Linked DNA regions of Homo sapiens: region 2 is linked to region 1. The links come from fine-mapping of genetic effects on gene expression. Tissue or cell type: lung. Region 1 holds a variant in brackets; the other region holds the start of a gene. All regions are shown on one strand. Distances are from middle to middle.

Region 1 (5,196 bases):
CACCTGAGGTTCCTCCCTTCTCTCTAGGGGGCAAGACAGGCCTGGCTCCATGTTGGGTTACCTCAGCCAGGGCTTGGTGCTGACATCACAGTCCCACGAGCCTCCTGGACACTGGCTGGGGTGGGGGCTGGTCTCTGTTGTTCCACTGTTGCTGGAGGGAACCCCAAGGCCAACTGCCACTCTGGTTCCCAGGACCTGGGGGGATGGTGGCCCTGGGCCAGGAGCAGAAGAGGGGCCCTGCCTGCAGGGACACATGGACACACCATCTGGAGGCACACAGGTAGGGGCTGTGCACACACACATGTCCCTTACCGCACACACGTGGAGCAAGACACACACACAAATGCACAGACCCACACCTTACTCCACACACACACACCTGGTACCACCACTGCCTTCAAACGCATGCTTCATGCTAGTCACGGGAAAAAGCAGACGCGACCCACACTTATACCACACATGCGCACAGGCCCCACGCCATGCACAGCCACACCTCTTACTCCCCCCACCCCACCCCGTCCCTCTCTCCCAGGAATCTCATCTCCTGCACAGATATGCACCCACCCAGGCTCACTGGCGCCCCCCACTGCCCTGGAGAAGTAAGTCCACAAACCATGAGATGCCGCCACATCCAGAGAGAGGTGGGATGGCTGATGGGAGGGAGGTCAGAAGAGTCCCTGCATTCCCCCAGGAGAGGGGACCGCTGGCTGCTCTCAGCCCTCCAGCCTGGGGCCTGGCCTCTGGGCGCTGTGCACGTGGTCATGAGAGGGCACTCCCATGAAGACAAGCCAGGTCCCCACTCCTGCTCCCAGCACTCAGAGATGCCCACCCTCGGGGCTGCTCAGGCACAGGAGGACTAAACAGGAGCTCCTGCCACCAGCTCCTTACAGGGTGGGGTCAGGAGCTGGTGGGAGGACACATCCCCCTGAGTCCTGGGGTCAGGGGCCGCGTGGCCTTGCTCACTGGCAGGGAGTTGCCCACCCCTGCCGTTTCTCCCGCTCCCTCTTCCTCTCAGTGCCCACGTCCTCCCATCTGGCCTTTCTCTCCCCCAGATCCTCCCCCATGACTGGCTTTCCTTTCTCTCTCTCTCTCTCTCTCTCTCTCTCTCTCTCTCTCTCTCTCTGGCTCCCTGTGTCCCTGTGACCTGCTTATCCTCTAGAATAAAGATCGACATTTTCAATTACCCCAAAAATAACAGAGCCGTTCTTGGGGCCTGGCGGAGGATGGCTGCACGGGCGTGGGCACGGGCGCTGGTTTGCATGTGGGGCCTGCAGGTGGCGGGGGTGGGGACACCCACGGTCCCACTGTCCTTTGTTTGCTTTTTCTCATCCGGAGCCTTCATTTTTTCCTGGAAGATTGGAAGCACGTTTCCCTTCAGGGGAGGAAGGGAGACAAAAGAGAGAAAGAAAAACTGTCATCGTTGTCTTGTAAACAGCGTAGAGCCAAGTGGGGGCTCGGCAGGAGAGAGGGACACAAGGGAGAGGCCAGAACAGAGAAAGGGGGACGAGAGGGATGGGGTGGGGAGGTGAGCAGGAGCCCCCCTCAAGGCCGGGTGGGTCGGTGTCCTGCAGGAAGGACTGATGGGAGGGGAACAAGGCGACGCTGATCCAGGGCTGTTGGGGGTTTTGAGGAGACACAGCATCTGCTGAGTGCCAGGCAGGCCCCGGGAGGCAGGCGCTATTCTCTGAATCCCACCCTGTGCCAGGCTCTGGGGGTGCTGAGGTGAGTGACAGACATGACTTTGCACTCTTGGGGCATAAACTCTATTGGAAACAAAGTGGTGGCTTCATGTGTTCAGCACTTATATCAATTGAGGCTCAGAGAGGGTGGGTGACCTGCCCGATGACACACAGCCGGAGGTGAGGGGACCAGGATCCCAGCCAGGTCCGTGTGACCGCAGTCTCCTTTCACACCGCCTCTGCTGTGGGCACACTTGGCTCTTGCGTGACCTTGAGCAAGTCCTCACCTCTTGGCCATCAGTTTCCCCATCTGAAATGCAGCCACCATGCTGGTTCTCTGCAGGGCTGTGGGGAGCATCAGATGTCTGGATGTGAAGGACCCTCAGCTCTGGCTCTCCGCCGAGCTGGCTGGCGGGTGGAGGAGCAAAGATCACCAGGTGCGCAGGGAAGGACTGGCCGGCAGGGAAAGGAGGCCGGACCGCAGATTTACTCCCTGCTTC[C/T]GCCCAGTGGCAATAATTGGGTACTGCAGAGGGTGAGTCTGGACAGCCTTCTTCAGCTTGCACAAGGGCCAGAGCAGAAAGGCGCCTTTGCGTGTTGTCTGGTCCTCCCTGGCCCCATTTCGCGGATGCCCAGAGAAAGGAGGGACTCCTCCTCAGGTCATCCAGGGCAGAAGCTTGGGCTGGGCTTTCAGTGCAGTGTAGGGTGCTTCCCTCTGTCCCTGTGGCACTCAAGAAGCCTCCAGTCAGCTTCAGAGCAAGAGAAACAGAGTTCTACATCCTCTGCTTGACGCCACCACCTCCAGGGAGACTTCCAGGGTCTCCTCCAGTAGGAAGTGGCCTCACTCCTGCCCTGCAGTCCCACACTCGAACTCTCCTTGCTCCTCCTCCTCCACCCAACCATGACTGTCCTCCTGCCCGCAGCAAATCAGGCAGCAGGGCCCCTTGAGACACGAGAGATGGTGGAGAACCATTGTCACCACTCAGGGAGCATGTGCCAGGGGCCCACTCTGTCCTGCGGCTCTACCTGCATCCTCTCACTTGAACCTCGTAAGAACCTTGGTAAGTTGGGGTTATTTTGAGCCCCATTTTTCAGGTGAGGAAATGGGCACAGAGAGGTTATGACCTTTACACACAGAGTGGTGGGGCAGGGACTCAAACCCAGGACTGTCTGTTCTCTGGAGAGATGCCCGTGTTTGGAGGTGAAAACTACCCCCGTGGCCATATGACAGTCCACTGTGACCGGACACTGAAATGACCAGTCCAGGGGGCTTGTGGGCTGGGGTCTCAGCTTCACCACTGTGCTGCTGGGTGACTTCGGGCAAGGCCCATTCCTCTCTGGACCCTGGTTCCTCATCTGTGTACTGTGTATGTGCATGCATGCACGTGTGTGTATATATGCGTGCGTGTGTGTGTGTGTGTGTGTGTGTGTGTGTGTTCTGGGTTACCTCAGAGATCCATTCTGGCTCTGAGTGTGGTATGTCCCATCTTGGGCAGATCCAAGGGAGGGCATGAGCAATCTGGCTTTGGGACAGGTATGGGGCTGGCCCTAGGGCCTGGATGTTTCTCCCTCCACTGCCTGCCACAGAGGGGAGTTTGTCTTGCAGGAAACAGCCTCATCCATCACGGCAATGGGGGGCTGACAGCAGCCACTCCCCGCCAGCCCCGGCTGGAGGCAGACTCGTAAATCCCATGCCAGGCCAGGCTGTAAATTCCTGTGATTCACATCCGGCCTCTTGGAGGACAGAGACATTTGGGGCTGTGGGGCTGGCTGTTCTCCCCTGGACAGGTGGGTACTGGGGAGAAGCCTCTTCACGGGCCCAGCAGTCTCAGATGGCCCCTCTGAGGAGATGTGATGCTGAGTCCCCAGGATGCCTCAGGCCCAGCCTGAGCCACCTCTGCCCAGACCACCTCTGCCTGGGCCATTCGTGTGCCCTGGCCCGCATCACCCTGGAGGTCACACGTGTGGACACGCTCTGTGGCCTCAGAGATCTCATGGGGCCTGTGGCCTGGAGGGTTGGCTCCACCAACCCCACAGCGAGGTCTCCTGCCAATCCGCATGGCATTCTGTCTTGGGGCTGTGAGGACATGGTGGGAGATCAGAGCCCAGTCTGTGTATCTCTTATTCCAGGGAGGCCGGGGCCCCGAATCCACTGTCCCTTAGGCAGGAAGGGGACAGGGCCACTCAGGCCAGGGCTGCAGCCATTTGTCATGTTTCATCAGGACTTTTGCTACACTCAGATGCCACTGGAACTCTTCTTTACTTAGCGTTTTTTAAAAATCAGCTTACTTTTAAAATTTAAGTGTGTGTTTTAGCCTCGTCTTTAGCCATATTTGTGAAATCAGGGTCTGATGTACTAGTCAAATACCCGCACACATGTACACATACACATGTGCACATACACGCTCAGACACATACATATACACATATATGTGAAAATATACACATGAAATATATCCATGAAAGTAAACACAAAGTTAAAATAGCAAATGCTCAGCTCCATGTACCATCTAATCCTGCTTTAGGTTTAGAGTGGCTCTATTCTCCCCGCATTATGGGTGATTCCTTATTGGTGAAACAAAGCAGGTTCAGATGGCTCACAGAGCTGAGCATTTACCAGCCATTCTAGCCTTCCCCCATTTTACAGACAAGGAAACCAAGGTCCAGAGAGGTGCAGGGCCTGCCCGAGGTCACACAGCGCTGGGATTAGTGGCCAGCCTGCCTGACTCCCAGCTGAGTGCTCCTTTTACAGAAGCACACTCCCTGTCTGTGGTGTGCAGGGCCCCTTCCTCCAGAAGCATATGTGGACTTGCAGAGGCCTTTTGGAGACTGTGCCCTAACACAGAGGGTTCATCACAAGGTGGGCTTCCTGGTGGCAGGCTGACGGGCAGGCGAACAGTCTCCTGGGTCCTGGTGGGACCAGGCACTGGCCCCTGGCTCTGTCTGTGCTTTATCCTGGTGCTCATGGCTCTTGCAGCGCCTCGGGATTCGGGGAAGTGGGGAAAGGAGAGTCCCAGGGGAGGGAGAGAGCAGGGCTCTGGCAGCAACCCTTCCCCAGGGAGCTGCTTACTGAAGAGATCATTAGTGGCAACGACTCTCAGGCTGGCAAGGAAGATGGCCTCATTAGCAAGCACCTTCCCCTGCGCCACCTCCACCTTCCCACCTGCAGGCTCCTGATACCCACACTGCCACTGCCACCACTGCCATCACTCCAGAGATGCGGCACGATGGGCCTCCTGTTGGGGACAAGGCTGCTAGCTCAAGGGAGCCAGGAAGGAGATGTGTGCAGGGTGGCAAGGGTGCGTGTATGTTGCACACACAGACACACAGACGCCGGCACACAGATATGCTCATATGCATGTACACACATACTGCATTAATAGAGGTGTGCACATAGGTCTAGCGCACACACACACAACACAGAGACTTGCACGGTAACGCGCAACTCCCCAGACACACGGTGCAAGCACACGGATCCAACAGAGACGTGTACACACAGGGGTGGGTTTCAGTGTGAAGC
Region 2 (5,128 bases), 240 kb after region 1:
TCTTCCTCCCAGACACAGCTCCGTGGTCATCCCTGCTGCCTCCGAGGCGCGGAGGGATCATTGTGGGCACCAAAATACCCCACCCTAGGACCCCAGCTTCCTCCGGTAGCACCTGGGGGTTAGCGGGGTGGAATGAGTGGGCTCTCCCCCATTTCTCCGCCGAGATCACTGAGGCAGGGAGCAGGTGAGTCGGGGGCGGAGAGATGTGGTGGCCGCGCCTTGCCTGCGTCAGTCACCGCACCAGGAATAGCCCTCGCCCCCGCCCCCGCCCCCCAGCGGGTCTGCGCGCCCGCCGGGTGCCTGGCGGAGCCTTTACGCAGGAGCCAGCGAGCGTCTATTCCTGTCGGGCTGGTGGGAGGAGGCGGCGCGGGAGGGCGGGAGCGCACGGGTAGCTCACAAACAGCCGGGGTGGGGGGGCTGGGGAGTCTGGGGAGGGGTCCAGGCAGCGCGGAGTTGAGGGACCGGGGAGTCGCCTGCGCTGGGCTCTGGCAGGGAGGGGGACTCCTGTGCTGGCCTCCCTGCTTCACCTCCCACCTGTAAGTCCTTCTGCCGAGCCTGCCCCCTGCTGGTCCATTCAGCCATAGAAGACGAGTCCAGTTCCCTTTCCGTGGCTTGCTGGCTGTGTGACCATGGGCAGAGCCTGGAACCTCTCTGGGCCTGGGCTTCCCTCCCTCTGTCACAGGGGAACAATAGTGCCTCCCCCAGAGTTGCTGGAGGGTGAACGTACAGTTCACAGTAGAGCATAGCATGGACGCCTGCTAGGAGGGACTCTAGCTAGGCCTAGGTTGAGGATGGGCATAGACATAGGAGACAGGAGAAAGTGCTCCAGACAGGACTGTCCAGAGCAACGGTGTGCCAGAGAGACTGAGAAGTACCCAGAAATGGTGCAGCTGGAACAGAAGGTCTGTGCAAGCCTTTGGGCTGTGTGTGAGGCTGAACAGCGAGAAACAAGGTGCTGTTGGGGGTGGGGAGAGGTCCCTCCGTGGCAACCAGGCATCTCTGCAATGATGTTGCGCAGGCTTCCTGGGAGAGGGGGTGTCACTGGAACTGGGATTCCAGCGTCTGCCCCAGAATCCGAGAGGCTTTGGGCTAGATCCCCTCCCCCAGCCTCAGCTGCCCCTGTGGACTCAAGCTATTAGGAGTATTCATGTGCTAATGGGTTGTTCCCAGCAGGGGAGGAGGGATGGCCGTGCCGGGCGGTGTCAGCATTGATGGTTATTCTAATAAAACTGGCTTGGTGGTAAAGGGCGTCTGGCTTCAAGGAGATGGAGGGGGTAGTATAGGGAAAAAGGTGAGGTCCTGAGGGTGGTAACCTACTCTGCAGGCTTTGCCAAGACATCCCTGCTGGCCTAGTTTCTGTATCTGAGGATCAAGGAGGATCTGGATCTCCGAGGAGAGGTCCCATTCCTTGGGCCCGTCTGAAGTTGTGGCCCCAGCCGAGGATCCCCGGGACCATTCCGGGAGGAGGGAACAGTCAAGCCCAGGCGGAGGCTCTGCGCTGCCCTCTGCTGGCCACTGGGTGCAGGGCCTCCGGACGGAGCGGGCCAGAGAGGCCTGCCGCCCTCTGCTGGACAGGAAGCCAGGCTGGGCGGGGACCCCGGCTCCTGGGTAGAGCTGCCGGGCCAGCGCGGCTTCCTCGCCGTCCCCTGGAGCTTCCCATTCTGCCTGCCTCGCCCTCCCGCGCTAGAATGTGGGCCCTCTAGCCTCGCGGACTTTCGAGAGGAGGGGACAGGGCCAGGACGGGGGCTCCCGGTCGGCCTCCCCATGCCGCCCTCCAAACAACCCTGTTCGTGTAGGGAGCCCTGTCCGTCCTCGTGCGTGTGTTCGTCCACAGCCCAGTTAACACGTGTAAACACACTCGCGCGCTCACATGCACACGCATGTGGCAACACAAAAATCACACACAACGGTGTGCGCGCATACACCCAGGGAGGACCGCACGCCGGACTCCCCGACACCCGGCTGGCCCGGGACTCGCCCAGAGCCCCGGACCCGGAGGGGCGCGGCCGTGTGCAGAGCTGGAGCGCCTGGCTGGTGCGCCCCTCGCCTGCGCACCCCTGCCTGTTTCGCTGCCCTAAGCGTGCAGGGCAGCGGCTGGGGCGCCCCTCGCTCTCCGCCCCCTCCGCTGAAAGGAGACGAACCACCCCCCACCCCACCACCACCATCACCAGGTTTTGCGGCCGCGCCTTCTCCTCCCCCGCCCGGCTCCCGCGGCTCACTCGCTCCCTCCTCCCTCGATCCCTCCTCCCTCCCTGGCTCGCTCCTAGTGCTCCCTCCCCGCGCCGCTGCAGAGCGCGGAGCCCGAGCGGGAGCCGGCGCGGGAGCCGGAGCGGGCGGCGGGCGACAGCGCAGGCGGCGGCGGCGGCGGTGGGTCCTGGTCCCGGCCCCGGAGGGCGCGGAGTCCCCACCCGCGCCGCTCCGGCCCCTCTCCCGACGCGGGGCGCCGAGCAGCATGCGCGGCCGCTGCCCGCCGGCCCCGGCCCCGCGGCGGAGCGCGCCCGGCCTCGACCCCGGCCCCAGCGGCAGAGGCGGCGGCGGCGGCTCCGGGCCGGCCCAGGGGGCAGAAGCAGGCTCGCGCAGCCCCTGTCCCGCGGCCTGAGCGCGCCCGCCCATCCGCCCGCCGGGGCCGCGGCCTCCCGCCTCCCCACTCCCGAGCCCCGGCCCCGGCTCCGGCTCGGCTCCCGCCCGCGCGGGGCGGACAGACGGACAGCCAGCCCCGCGAGGGCGCGCGGACTGCCGGGCGGAGGTGTCGGAGGAGGAGGAAACGGAGGAGGGGGCTGGGCAGGGGCTGGGGCCTGGTCGGGCCGGCTGGAGAGACATGCGATTGGTGACCGAGCCGAGCGGACCGAAGGCGCGCCCGAGATGCAGGTGAGCCAGGCGGCCGCGGCCGAGCCCCGAGCGGGCAGCCCCGCGGCGAGTGCCCCTGGGGGCCGCCATCGGCCCTGGCTGCGCCCTCCTGGGGTTGCAGGGCACCTCGGTGCCACCCAGACCTCCTTTGGGGTCATAGGCCTGATTTCCCCTCAAGCCTCAGAAATGAAAATTCTTCCTTTTCCACCTCCCCTCTCTCCAACCCCAACAAATTCCGGGTTTGTAAGCTGGGAGCCTGGAGCTGGGGAGGGGCCCCCACGGGTGTCCCAGACCTGCTCTGGTCTCCCCTTCCTGTCCCCCCTCCCATTCTGAGTATTGGTCACTCTAGAGGGTAAGCCCCCTGCTCAGCCCTGGGTGGGTACCTCCCTTCGTGGACCCCAGGTACCCCCAGGCAGCCCCCACCAGCACCAGACACTCCCTAGCTGGTGGACACAGGTCAGGGGCTGGGTTTCTCCACAAGCTCCAGCCTGGATGGCAGCTCCCCACCACACACAAGCATCGCCCCTTTCCAGCTCCTGCCCAGTGAAAAGGAGATGGGGAGTAGGGAGAGTGGAAGGAAGGGAGTTGGGGACCGGGAGCGCCCAGGAACGCTTTAGGGGCCTCCCCTTTGTCTGCGTTCAGCCCGGGCTTCTCACCTCCTCTTGCCCCACTTTTCATTCTAAGGCAGAGCGGGTGGGAGGTGGGAACCAGCTGAGAAGAGGGAGGTAAGGAGGGAGCCTCCTGCTCCCCCTCACACCCTTTTCGGGGTGGGCTGTGGGCTCTCTGCTCTCAAGGCATGCCAGGAGATGTGACCCTCCGGGCGGATCCCACTTTGAGAAGGAGGGGTGGGGCCAGGCCAGTGGGCAGCCCCTCCCGGTTCCTGCTGGGGTCGCAGCCCAGCCTGGTCCAGCCTGACTGTGCCTGCACCTCCTCTTTGTTCTCAGAGGCCTTGGGGTTGGGGTGGGGCAGAAGGGGGCCTGAGAGGATGGGAAGAGCTCTGCCCTGAGCGGGTGGGAGTGCAGGAGGCCCTGAGGTAGGGGCTGTGGCATCTGGACAGCCCCTTCCTGCTCGCCCAGCCCTCCCTCAGTCCTCTGCTTGGTTTGGGCAGCCAGAGGGCGCATAGCCCAGCCTGGCCCGCGGCTCTGGGCTCAACCCTGTTGGTCATTATGCCAGTGGCTTCAGCACTGGTGCCTCCCATGCCCAGGGAGCAATGAGCCGGGACACCCAGGCGGCAGAGAGCCTGGGGCTTCCCCAGATCCAGCGCAGAGTGTCAGTGAGGAGAAGAGGGCCAGCTGCTCCCAGACCCTTTGTCCTTGTATAAGCCAGGGAGGAGCTCAAAATCCTCACGCCTCTGGGAAGGCACTAGCAGCAGGTCTACTGGGATGGCATGCCTGTCCTTCCTGCTTTCTACCCGTGGCCCGAGGTGGGAGGGAGGGTATAGGGTGGCACCGGGGAGAGACCAATAACTCCTTGGAACCGTGCTGAAAGAGGGCACAGACTCACATCGGGGATCCCAGCAGCACCCAGCTGCCCCTCCTGGAAGGGGCTTAGCGAAGGCAGGGACAGGCACCCTGTGGTGTTCTTGTCTCTGCCCCCCTCCTCACCCCCTGACAATTTAAGTGTGAGCCCCTGGGTAGGGCTTAGTTAAAGCTGCAGTGTTCCCCAGGTTCTGGAGTTAAAGAGTGGGAACCAGCTTTTAGGGGGATGGGCATGTGCTCAAAGCCAAGGGCCCTGTGTGACTGGGAGGGAGGTGGAGAGACTTACCCCTTGCGATAGTCCTCTTTCATCTGGGCTCATCTTCATCCTCTGTCCTCTGGGCATCCATTTCTCCTATATTGGGTATTGTTTTCTAAAACCCAGACTCCCAGAGGGACACCTCCCCCACCCCAACCCCCCAAAAAACAACCTCTTGTGGAGGTGGGTGGTTGTTCTGCATGAGGCTAGACGGGATCCCTGGTGCCGGTGAGGGCTCATGTGTGGTGCTGCTCTTCAGGCGCCTTCAGCCGCAGATATCTGGAGAAGCACAATTGGGGTTGGGGCGTGTTCCTGTTGGGAGATAAGGCAGTGCAGTCATTCGTGCAGGGTCCCACGGAGGCATGAGGCAGCGTGTCCAGTGGAGGGTAGGGGAAGTGGAGCCAGGGAAGGGTGGGGGGCGGTGGGTAGTAGGTGTGGTGGTTTCAGAGTCAGGGCCTTAGCTTGCTGGCTGGAGTCTCTTGGGCTAGCTGTCCTGTGTGTGGCACTCTGTGGAAGTGGCCTTCCAGCCCCACCCACCTCCATGGTT

The links. PIP is the estimated chance that this variant, and not a neighbour inherited with it, causes the effect.
Region 2: LINGO1 starts here. The variant in region 1 is fine-mapped to the expression of LINGO1 in lung (TOPMed, PIP 0.94).

The regions. Positions count from the first base shown.
Region 1 is chr15:77,867,615-77,872,810 of GRCh38, reverse strand. No RefSeq gene overlaps it. Among named protein-coding and RNA genes, the nearest start is that of TBC1D2B, 210 kb to the left of the region's middle. RefSeq lists enhancers at 742-1,580, 3,445-3,945. The variant C/T (reference allele first, on the strand shown) is at 2,180.
Region 2 is chr15:77,630,050-77,635,177 of GRCh38, reverse strand. It overlaps LINGO1 (leucine rich repeat and Ig domain containing 1), which reads left to right and starts at 2,266. Exons shown (of 2, transcript NM_032808.7): 1 at 2,266-2,868. The coding sequence starts at 2,863. LOC105370906 (a long non-coding RNA gene) reads right to left here. Exons shown (of 4, transcript XR_001751806.2): 4 at 4,717-4,893. RefSeq lists enhancers at 1,313-1,442, 884-1,447, 4,842-5,128.